Linked DNA regions of Homo sapiens. The protein of the gene in region 2 purifies or fractionates together with the protein of the main gene of each other region. This does not show direct contact. Each region holds a gene or a part of one and is shown on either strand. Other genes may lie near its edges.

Region 1 (4,848 bases), on a different chromosome or scaffold from region 2:
GCAGTAGGACTGTGAACCCTCAGAGTGGAATATCTGACAGAGAATCTCAATTACTGTAGCATTTTGCTTAATTATTATCCTCATAGCAGGAATAACAGTTACTAACAAAAAATAACACATGGGTCTTTCCAAACATGCACCTCTGCCTGTCATTAAAAAAAAAAAAAAAAAAAGTTACTTCTGTCTCAACCAGTCGGGCCTAATAAAAAATGCTGCTGAAAAGCCTAGGACTAATGTTTTTACTCTGCCTAATTAACCTTTATCAAAAATTTTTAACCGACAGAATCATGGCCATTTCGCAACTACCCAAAAACATCTACAAATGGTGTTGATCCTACAGTCAATCTAAGACCAAAAAACTCTCCACCCCCGCATCAGCAGGAAGTAGCTAGAAAGAACATGTCCCCTCTTGTCCTTTTATAACCATAGGGTCTGGAATGATAGAGCAGGAGTACTGTCATCTCAGACAAACACCGCCACTTTAAATTCCAGCTCCCTTTCTAGCCTCATGCATTTCAAGGAAATCACTTCTCTTCTAACTACAAGCAGCCAGAAAGAGCAGACAGTAAAACACGGATAAGACAGCTGGGACACAAAGGGAGGTGGGGGGAAAGTATCTTGGGTAACTGCCAAACTTCACCCTCATACGATGGGCCCCAGTAAAACAGTGGGCCTTAATAATAAGGAACAAGCACATTCCCTTTCCTTCAGGGGCACTAAGACAGGAAAGCTAAAAGCAGACTCTTGGCTGGGCGCGGTGGCTCATGCCTGTAATCCCAGCACTTTGGGAGGCCGAGGCGGGCGGATCACGAGGTAAGGAGATCAAGACCATCCTGGCTAACACGGTGAAACCCCGTCTCTACTAAAACTACAAAAAATTAGCCAGGCGTGGTGGCGCATGCCTGTAGTCCCATCTACTCAGGAGGCTGAGGCAGGAAAATCGCTTGAACCTGGGAAGCAGAGGTTGCAGTGAGCCGAGATGGCGCCACTGCACTCCGGCCTAGCGACAGAGCGAGACTCTGTCTCAATAAATAAGTAAAAACAGACTCAGGGACTATACCTGCAGCTGCAGGAAAAATGTATGAAAACAGGCACACAACTCTCCCTCCCAGATAAGCACAACAAAGAGACACAGAAGCAGTCCAAGCCTCTGATAAACTCTCCCATCCTGAATCCTTAAAAACTCAGTCTGTAAGAGAGTGTGCCTCTGACCTAACTTGGCCAGAAGGCTCCTTTCAGGTTGATTTTCTCTAAAATAAATGTCTTAACTGGCAAGCCAGCTTTTGTATTTCTTTCCTCTTTCTTTAATTCTTACAGTTCTCACAGTAAGGATTGGAGAAAAATCCCCTTCTGGTTTTGGCAGGAGGCAAGGAAAGCAGTCATTTTTTTCTCAACATATCTACCCTCATAGAAACTATTATACCAGAGCCTAAGTGAATGGACACCCAGGGCCTAACTAACCTAAGTGATGAGGAAAAACCCAAATCCAGCCCCTCTAGCCTTTCTCATCACCTAAAAGGGGTAGGACTGAGAAACACTTGTGAAGGTCACAGCCCAGGGGTGCAGGCTCACTGAAACACTAAGACCTAATTGTAGGACTGTAAAACACTTCCCCCCACCAAAACACCTTGCTACTACATCCACAGGGCTCCAGTATAGTAACAAGGGGATTACGGATAAGAGAACTGCAAGCCAGAGCCTATTTAAGGAGTTTCTACAAAAACCCAAAGACAACAGGGTAGACAAAAACAAGAAGATGAAGAGAGAAAATTATATCCTCTGATACCCACAGCTATAGCAAATAGTAAACACATTCTAACTCCTAGACAGGTAAATATCAAACCTCACACTAAAAGCCTATCTACCTCAGTACCTTTTACCCAATACATTATATCTGATTTTCTGCAAAACAATTACAAGATATATAAAAGACAAAAACACAGTTTGCAAAGATGAAACAAGCACCTAAACCACAATCAGATATGGAAGCAATGTTGGAATTTTCAGATGGAAAATTTAAAACAATGATAATTAAAATGCTAAGAGCTCTAATGGAAAAATGTGGAGAACATATAAGAACAAATTGGTCATGTAAGCAGAGAGATGGAAATTAAGAAAAAAATCAAAAAAAGTCTAGAAATAAAAACCCTGTGATAAATGCAAAGAATGTCTTTAATAGGTTTATCAATAGACTGGATACAGTTGAGGAAATAATCAATGAGATGGATGAAATATCAACAAACACTTCCCAAACTGAAATGCAAAGGGAAATATAGAATAAAAAAGACAAAACAGAATATCCAAGAATGGTGGGACAATTGCCATAGGTGTAAATCCTTGTAATAGGGATATCAGATGGAATAAAAAGAAAGAAAGGAATAGTAAAAATGTTTGAAGTGATAATGACTGATAATTTTCCAAAATTAAAGACAGATACCAAACCAAGATCCAAGCAGCTCAGAGGAAACCAAATAGGATAAAGATCACCCCCCACCCCCCAAAAAATCTATACTTAGGCATATCATATTCAAACTGCAAAAAATAAAAGACACAGAGATAATCTTCAGTGAAGCCAGGGAGAGGCAGGGCAGGACACCTTACCTATAGAGGGAGAGAGATGAGGATTACATCAAACGTCTCTTCATAAACCATGCAATCAGGAATAGAATAGAAAGAATTATTTAAAGAACTGAAAACATTCCATCAACTTAGAACTAACTAGATTCCATCTGTATGCAGTAAAATTGTCCTTCAAAAGTGGAGGAGAAAGACTTCTCAAACAAAAATTGAAGGAATTTGTCACCAGTAAACTGCCTTACAAGATATGTTAAAAGAAGTAATTCAGAAAAAAAGGAAAATTAAACAAGTCAGAAACTCAACATACAAAAGAGTATTAGAAATAAATGTGAAATAATTTTTTTTCTTATTCTTAATCTGAGAGATAACAATTTGTTCAAAATAATAATTGCAACAATGTATTCAGTGATTGTAGCTTATGGATAAGTGAAATGAATGATAGCAGTAATAATAAGGCATGGGAGGGAGGAATCAAGAATACTCTGCAATAAGGCCCTTACACTACCCATAAAGTTGTATAGTGTTATTCAAAAGCAGACTTAAATTAGATTTAAGTGTATATTGCAAACTGTAGGTCAACCACTAAAAAAGCAACAACAAAAAAGTAAAACTGATATGCTAAGAGAGAAAAGAAAATGGAATCATATAAAATGCTCAGTTAAGATCAGAAAAGGCAGAAAAAAGTGTGGAAGAAAAAAGAAACAAAGGGCAAATAGAAAACAGTAATAAATATGGTAAATATTAATCCAACTATATCAAAAAATCACTTCAAATATCAATGGTGTAAATATACCAATTAAAACATGTGACTATCTAGAGTGAATAAAGAATCGTGACCTAACTATATGTTGTCTACAACAAACCCATTTCAACATAAAAACCAGATAGGTTACAAATAAAGGGATGGAGAAAGATATACCGTGCTACCACTAATCAAAAGAAATATGGAGTAGTTCTATTAACTTCAGATAAAGCAGACTTCAGAGAAAGGAAAATTATTAGGAATAAAGAGAAGCACTACATAATGGTAAAGGAGTCAATTATCCCAGCAGACATAATACTCCTTAATATGTATGTGCCTAACAACAGTGCTAAAATGTGTAAAGCAAAAACTGACAGAATTTTAAGGAGAAATAGATGAATCCACTATTATTACAGTTGGAGACATCAACACCTCTCTGTCAGTCCCCACTAACGTTTTTTTTGGGGGGGCGGAGTTTCACTCTTGTTGCCCAGGCTGGAGTGCAGTGGCACGATCTCGGCTCACTGCAACCTCCGCCTCCCGGGTTCAAGCAATTCCCCTGCCTCAGCCGCCCGAGTAGCTAGGATTACAGGCATGCACCACCACGTCCGGCTAATTTTGTATTTTTAGTAGAGCCTCCATGTTGGTCAGGCTGGTCTCGCACTCCTGACCTCAGGTGATCTGCCCACCTCGGCCTCCCAAAGTGCTGGTATTACAGGCGTAAGCCACCGTGCCTGGCCAGTACCCACTAACTGATAGATCCAGCAGGCTGGAAATCAGTAAGGACATAGTTGAACAGCACCATCAATTAAGTGTATCTAATTGGCATTTAGAGAATACTTCACCCAACAACAACAGAATACACATTCTTCTCAAGTTCACATGGAATATTCATCAAGACAGACCACATTCTGTGCCATAAAACATACAACAACAAATATCAATGACTTCTATGATGGAGATTACTGAGATCACAACAGAATCACTAGAAATCAATAACAGAAAGATATCTGAAAAACATTAAAAAAATGGAAACTAAATGACACACTTCTAAACAACATGTAAACAAATCAAAGAATAACTCTCAAGAAAAAATTTAAAATATTTCAAACTAAATTAAAATGAAAATATAACATCAAAATTTATGGGATGCTGCTAAAGTAGTGTTTAGAGGGAAATTTAGAGCACTGAATGCATATATTATTAAAGAAGAAAGAGCTAAAAGCAAGTTTCCAAATTAGGAAACTAGAAAAAGAAGAGCAAATTAAATCCAAAATAAACAGAAGAAAGGAAATAATAAAAATTACAGCAGAACTTGTGAAATTGAAAACATGCTGTCAATAGAGAAAATCAACAAAACCTAAAGCTGGTTCCTTGAAAAGATGAATAAAACTGAGACACCTCTAGCCAGGTTAACTAAGAAGAAAAAGAGAGAAGACTCAAATTACTAATATCAAAAATGAAAGAAGGGCCATCAATACTGATCCTACGGTCATTAAAAGGATAATAAAATACTAGTATGAACAACT
Region 2 (5,882 bases):
TAGAAATGGGTTTTTGCCACGTTGGCCAGGATGGTTTTGATCTCCTGACCTCATGATCCGCCTGCCTTGGCCTCCCAAAGTGCTGGGATTACAGGTGTGAGCCACCGTGCCCGGCCCAAGAGCTACCCTGTTTCTAGACCAGATGTCTCTTCCAGATTAGTTGGACAAGAATTGCAACACAGTCTTTTTTTGTTTTTGTTTTTGTTTTTCTGAGACAGGGTCTCACTCCCGTCACACAGACTGGAGTGCAGTGGTGCAATCACGGCTCACTGCAGCCTCAACCTCCTGGGCCCAGGTGATCCAACTCAGACTCCCAAGTAGCTGGGATTACAGGCATGTGCCACCATGCCTGGCTAAATTTTTTTGTATTTTTTGTAGAGACAAGGTTTCACCATATTGCCCAGGCTGGTCTCAAACTCCCGGGCTCGGGTGATCCACCAACCTTCACCTCCCAAAGTGCTGCAATTACAGATATGAGCCACCATGCCTGGCTACAACACAGTCTTTATTTACTTTATCCCCTGCCCCTCTGCATAACCACCACACACAACACTTCTCAGGGAAAGATTTCCTGAAAGTGGAGAGCTTGACTGAAGATTTAGAAAGCAAGCAGAGGAAAGGCTTGTACTGTAATAGCATGAATTTCTTAAAACTCAACAGCAGGCACCACCATTCTCTTGCACCCACCTAGTTCTAGTCTCTCTTTTTTTTTTCTTTTTTATTTTTGGAGAGACAAGTTCTCACTATGTTGCCCAGGCTGGTCTTGAACTCCTGGCCTCAAGTGATCCTCCCACCTCAGCCTCCCAAAGTGCTGGGATTACAGGCATGAGCCACTGCACTTAGCCCAATCTCTTTCTAATTGTTGATTTCTTTCTTCCCTTCCTTTTTTTCTTTTGTTTGCCTGACTTTTTTTTTTTTTTTTTTTTGAGATGGAGTCTTGCACTGCTGCCCAGGCTGGAGTGCAGTGGTGCGATCTTGGCTCACTGCAAGCTCCGCTCCCCGGGTTCATGCCATTCTCCTGCCTCGGCCTCCTGAGTAGCTGGGACTACAGGTACCCACCACCACGCCCGGCTAATTTTTTGTATTTTTAGTAGAGATGCAGTTTCACCCTGTTAGCCAGGATGGTCTCGATCTCCTGACCTCGTGATCCACCCACCTCGGCCTCCCAAAGTGCTGAGATTACAGGCATGAGCCACCGCACCTGGCCCACCTGACTTTTATCAAGAGCATTTTTTCTCTTTCTTGCTCGCTTGCTTTCTTTTCTTTTCTTTCTTTCCTTTTTTTTTTTTTTTTTTTTTTGAGATGGAGTCTTGCTCTGTTGCTCAGGCTGGAGTGCAGTGGCACAATCTCAGCTCACTCCAACTTCCGCCTCCTGGGTTCAAGCGATTCTCCTGCCTCAGCCTCCCGAGTAGCTGGGATTAGAGGCGCCCGCCACCATACCTGGCTAATTTTTGTATTTTTAGTAGAGATAAGGTCTCACTATGTTGGCCAGGCTGGTCTTGAACTCCTGACCTCAAGTGATCTGCCCGCCTCAGCCTCCCAAAGTGCTGGGATTACAGACGTGAGCCACCATGCCTAGCCAAGAGCATTTTTTTTTTCTCCTTGAATCATGAAAAGTAGTATAGTGGTATTTAATTGCGTGGGTTTCTGTCCATGAGGTCTCACTCTTCATCAAGCGCACACTTTTCAAACAAAGATGGTTCTCTGTCCTAAGAATATCTGGTTCTTCCTACCTCGACTTCTTTCTATAAATATTAAAGGTAAAAACTATGCAGTCTTAGCCCAGAGCTTGGAATGTTAATCTCCTTTCCCAAAAATGTAGAACACAGCACTAACCACTTGTGGAAGCTACAAAGATGAACAGTGCTTCTAACTATAAACAAGGCCGAATATGATAAAGGCTCTGTGATGATTGAGTGTCAACTTGATTGGATTGAAGGAGGCAAAGTGTTGTTCCTGAGTGTCTGTGAGGGTGTTGCCAAAGGAGATTAACATTTAAGTCAGTGGACTGGAAGGAAGTGACCCAGTCTCAATGGTGGGCACCATCCAATCCGCTGCCAGCGACGCTAGAAAAAGTAGGCAGGGCTAGGCATGGTGGCTAACACCTGTAATCCCAGCACTTTGGGAAGCCGAGACGGGTGGATCACCTGAGGTCAGGAGTTCGAGACCAGCCTGGCCAACATGGCGAAACCCCATCTCTACTAAAAATACAAAAATTAGCTGGGCATGGTGGCGCATGCCTGTAATCCCAGGTACTGGGGAGGGGGGCGGGGCGGGGGTGGTGAGGCAGGAGGATCGCTTGAACCTGGGAGGCCAAGGTTGCAGTGAGCTGAGATCGTGCCACTGCACTCCAGTCTGGGCAACAGAGCGAGACTCCGTCTCAAATAAATAAATAAATAAATAAATAAATAAATAAATAAATAAAAGTAAAAGTAGGTGGAAGAAGCTGACTTGCTGAAGTCTTCCGGCCTTCGTCTTTCTCTCATGCTGGATGCTTCCTGCCCTCGAACATCAGACTCCAAGTTCTTCAGCTTTTGGACTCTTGGACTTACACCAGTGGTTTGCCAAGGGCTCTCGGGGCTTTGGCCACAGACTGAAGGCTGCACTGCCGGCTTCCCTACTTTTGAGGTTTTGGGCCTTGGACTGATCCACCACTGGCCTCCTTGCTCCTCAACTTGCAGACGGCCTAATGTGAGACTTTACCTTGTGATCCTGTGAGGCAATTCTTAATAAACTCCCTTTCATATATACATTTATCCTATTCACTATGTCCCTCTAGAGAACCTAAGGCTCTAACAGCGACGTTCAGAGGATCTACAGATATCTGCGGTAGACACGCCCACGAAGTCGCCTCTGTGCCTACCTATCGGGTCCTGTGACCACAGGCGACCTCAGTCCCCGAACCATCTTTGCAGCTTCTCAAACGCACACCCCAGTGCCCTTTCTCGCCACAGGTGTGAAACTACATCTCCCGACAGGCGGCGTTGTCCCCTTCCTTCCTTCCTTCCTCTCCCAGGCCCGAGCCATGGCAACAGCGTGACGTGGGGGTACCGAGATCTGCGGGAGCAGCGGTCCCGGCTTCAGTTCTAGCCTACCCGGCAGCCTGGACGGGAGCAAGGCGAGAGGTGCTGCCGCCTCCCGTCGCCCCTGCGCTCAGAGGTCCCGAACCAGCCCAGCCGCTGCCTCTTGCCGCTCCGCCTTTGGAGTGAGGAGGGCGCAGCCCGCGTCAGAACTTAGAGGGCCAGGCAGGGTCGCGCGCATGGCCTGGGCGGGCTCGCGGCGGGTCCCAGCTGGGACGCGCGCGGCAGCCGAGCGCTGCTGCCGGCTCTCGCTCAGCCCGGGCGCGCAACCGGCCCCGCCCCCAGGCCCTCTGCCACCGCCGCGACCAATGAGGTGAGAGGGAGGTGACCGCGGCTGAGGGCAGGGGGTCGCTGCGAACCCCGGGGTTCCGCGGTGGAGGGGTGCTATACTGGGATGCAGGCGCGGCGGGGACTGGCAGCAATCATGCCCTGGGAGCTAACGTAGAGCTTTGGATAATGCTTTTGCAAGTTGTACGAGAAGGGAAGTTCTCGGGGTGAGTGTCCAACCTCTTCTTGGCCCTCGCGGGCGCCCTGGGGTCCCCGGGGACAGTGATGCTTCCTTAAAGTCTTAGCTTTCAGCAGTAGTGTAGGCCCAGTCAAAGGCAACTGGCGCTTCCCACACACCCCTTTTTCTCATCCCCCTCACCCCGCCCCCAGCCCTGTCCTTAGCTGCCCTCGACCTTTTGCACTCGTGACTCCCTGGCCAGAGAGAGCCTAGCGGGCTGCAGCAGGTGCTGGGGGGAAAGCTTGTTTGGACGACCTTCGTCTGGGATGCACTCTTCTTCTCCTTCACCTACAAATGATAGAGGATTACGAAGAACTATACGGTTGGCTCCTCTTTCCTTTGGCCTTAGGTTTCTGACCTCCTGCAGCCTCCTCTTGCCTCGGGCTGCCCAGATCTTGGCGGCTGAGGCTGGCTTACCTTCGAGCCGTTCCTTCATGGGATTTGCTGCTCCCTTCACCAACAAGCGAAAGGCTTACTCGGAGCGTAGAATCATGGGGTAAGCATTCTCTGCCTTGCATCCTTGCACCTCCCTTTTCCCTCCAAATAACCCTGTCCAGGCAAGAATGTCAGGGTATCATCGGTGGGCAAGATTCATCCCTAGCCATCCCCCTCCCCAGCTACAATACTGATCCTCAGTCCTCCCCTGCCACTCTTCCGACCTTAATTTCTCCCTTCTTGGTTGCTGTGCATGTGCTTAAGTGAAATGAGACTAGGGTTGGACTATACTTTAAGACAACAGGGCGTAGCTGGGTGCGGTGGCTCACGCCTGTAATCCCAGGACTTTGGGAGGCTGAGGCGGGCCGATCGTTTTAGGTCAGGAGTTCGAGACCAGCCTGGCCAACATGGTGAAACCCTGTCTCCACTAAAAAAAAACACACACACAAGAATCAGCCTGGCACGGTGGCGGGCGCCTTTAATCCCAGCTATTTGGGAGGCTGAGGCAGGATAATCGCTGGAACCTGGGAGGCAGAGGTTGCAGTGAGCTGAGATTGCCCCACTGCACTCCAGCCTGGGCGACAGAGCAAGACTGTCTCAAAAAACAAAACAAAAAACAGGGTGTATTTTTCTGGTGACCATTTAAAAATAATTTTTATGGGTACCTAGTATGTGTAAATTAGCAGCGTAACCTTTTTAGTATATTTTGAGCATAATAGCTAAATTATCGAGCACTTGCTACATGCTAGCAGCTTGACTTAGATGTTTTACATAGATATTTCTCATTTAATTCTCACAACAAACCTATAAATCAGGTGAGAAAATGGAGACACAGGTAATTTACCTAAGGCCACATTGTTAAAAAATTGTTAAGAGCTGGGATCTGATCCTTGTGTGATCACCAGTAAAACTGACAGCCTCTGTTCTCCCTAGATGGTCCCTCTTAAAATCAAAATAAACAATGAATGCAAAAGCATTCTGTAAACTGCAAAATATAAGGTAACAGTATCATAAGGATTTACACGTTTGCTTTTGGGAAGTTATTCATCCAGGCTTATTTGGGATCTGTAGTTCCTGAAGGTGCGTGGTTAGTGGGCAAAGGTATGAATTAGGGGCCTATAGCAAGGAGGAACCTGACCCAGCTGGCAGCTCCTTGGCCTGTGATTCTTCTTCTCCTAGGTACTCAATGCAGGAGATGTATGAGGTGGTGTCCAACGTCCAGGAGTATCGTGAGTTTGTGCCCTGGTGTAAGAAGTCTCTGGTGGTATCCAGCCGTAAGGGTCATTTGAAAGCCCAGCTGGAGGTTGGCTTTCCACCTGTCATGGAACGTTACACCTCTGCAGTTTCCATGGTCAAACCTCACATGGTCAAGGTGAGGCCTGTATGGGAGGGATTGACAAGATTTTTTGTTTTTAGCAGTTTCATATGAAAGTGCTATTTTGGCCTTCCTTGTAAGTACTTTATGTCCATGTGTCAAGTATTTCCCTCATATCAGAAAAGAAGGAAAATGGCTTTCAATTCCTTTATATTGTATCCTATACTTAGTAATGTTATTTAACTACCTGATTACCCTATTCTAGGCTGTTTGTACTGATGGCAAGCTCTTCAACCACTTAGAGACTATTTGGCGATTCAGCCCTGGTATTCCTGCCTATCCTCGAACCTGCACTGTGGACTTTTCGGTGAGTCAGGAGGTTGTGTAGCAGAGGACGAGGACTGGGTATGAGGAAGGGCTGGGGTACTGTGACAGGGTTATTAATTTATTTGAGATGGAGTCTTGCTCCGTCACCCAGGCTGGAGTGCAATGGCACGATCTTGGCTCACTGCAACCTCCACCTTCTGGGTTCAAGCGATTTTCCTGC

Evidence for each region.
Region 1: the proteins of COQ10A (region 2) and ALDH1L1 purify together in Homo sapiens (co-immunoprecipitation; one large-scale study listed by IntAct). This does not show direct contact.

The regions. Positions count from the first base shown.
Region 1 is NC_000003.12:126,170,271-126,175,118, forward strand, and holds part of ALDH1L1 (cytosolic 10-formyltetrahydrofolate dehydrogenase), read right to left. Parts: intron 1-4,848. UniProt on the Homo sapiens protein: Cytosolic 10-formyltetrahydrofolate dehydrogenase that catalyzes the NADP(+)-dependent conversion of 10-formyltetrahydrofolate to tetrahydrofolate and carbon dioxide.
Region 2 is NC_000012.12:56,263,860-56,269,741, forward strand, and holds the start of COQ10A (coenzyme Q-binding protein COQ10 homolog A, mitochondrial), read left to right. Parts: upstream 1-3,082; 5' UTR 3,083-3,259; coding exon 3,260-3,393; intron 3,394-3,466; exon of another isoform or gene 3,467-3,536; coding exon of another isoform or gene 3,537-3,574; intron 3,575-3,934; coding exon 3,935-4,081; intron 4,082-5,199; coding exon 5,200-5,392; intron 5,393-5,600; coding exon 5,601-5,702; intron 5,703-5,882.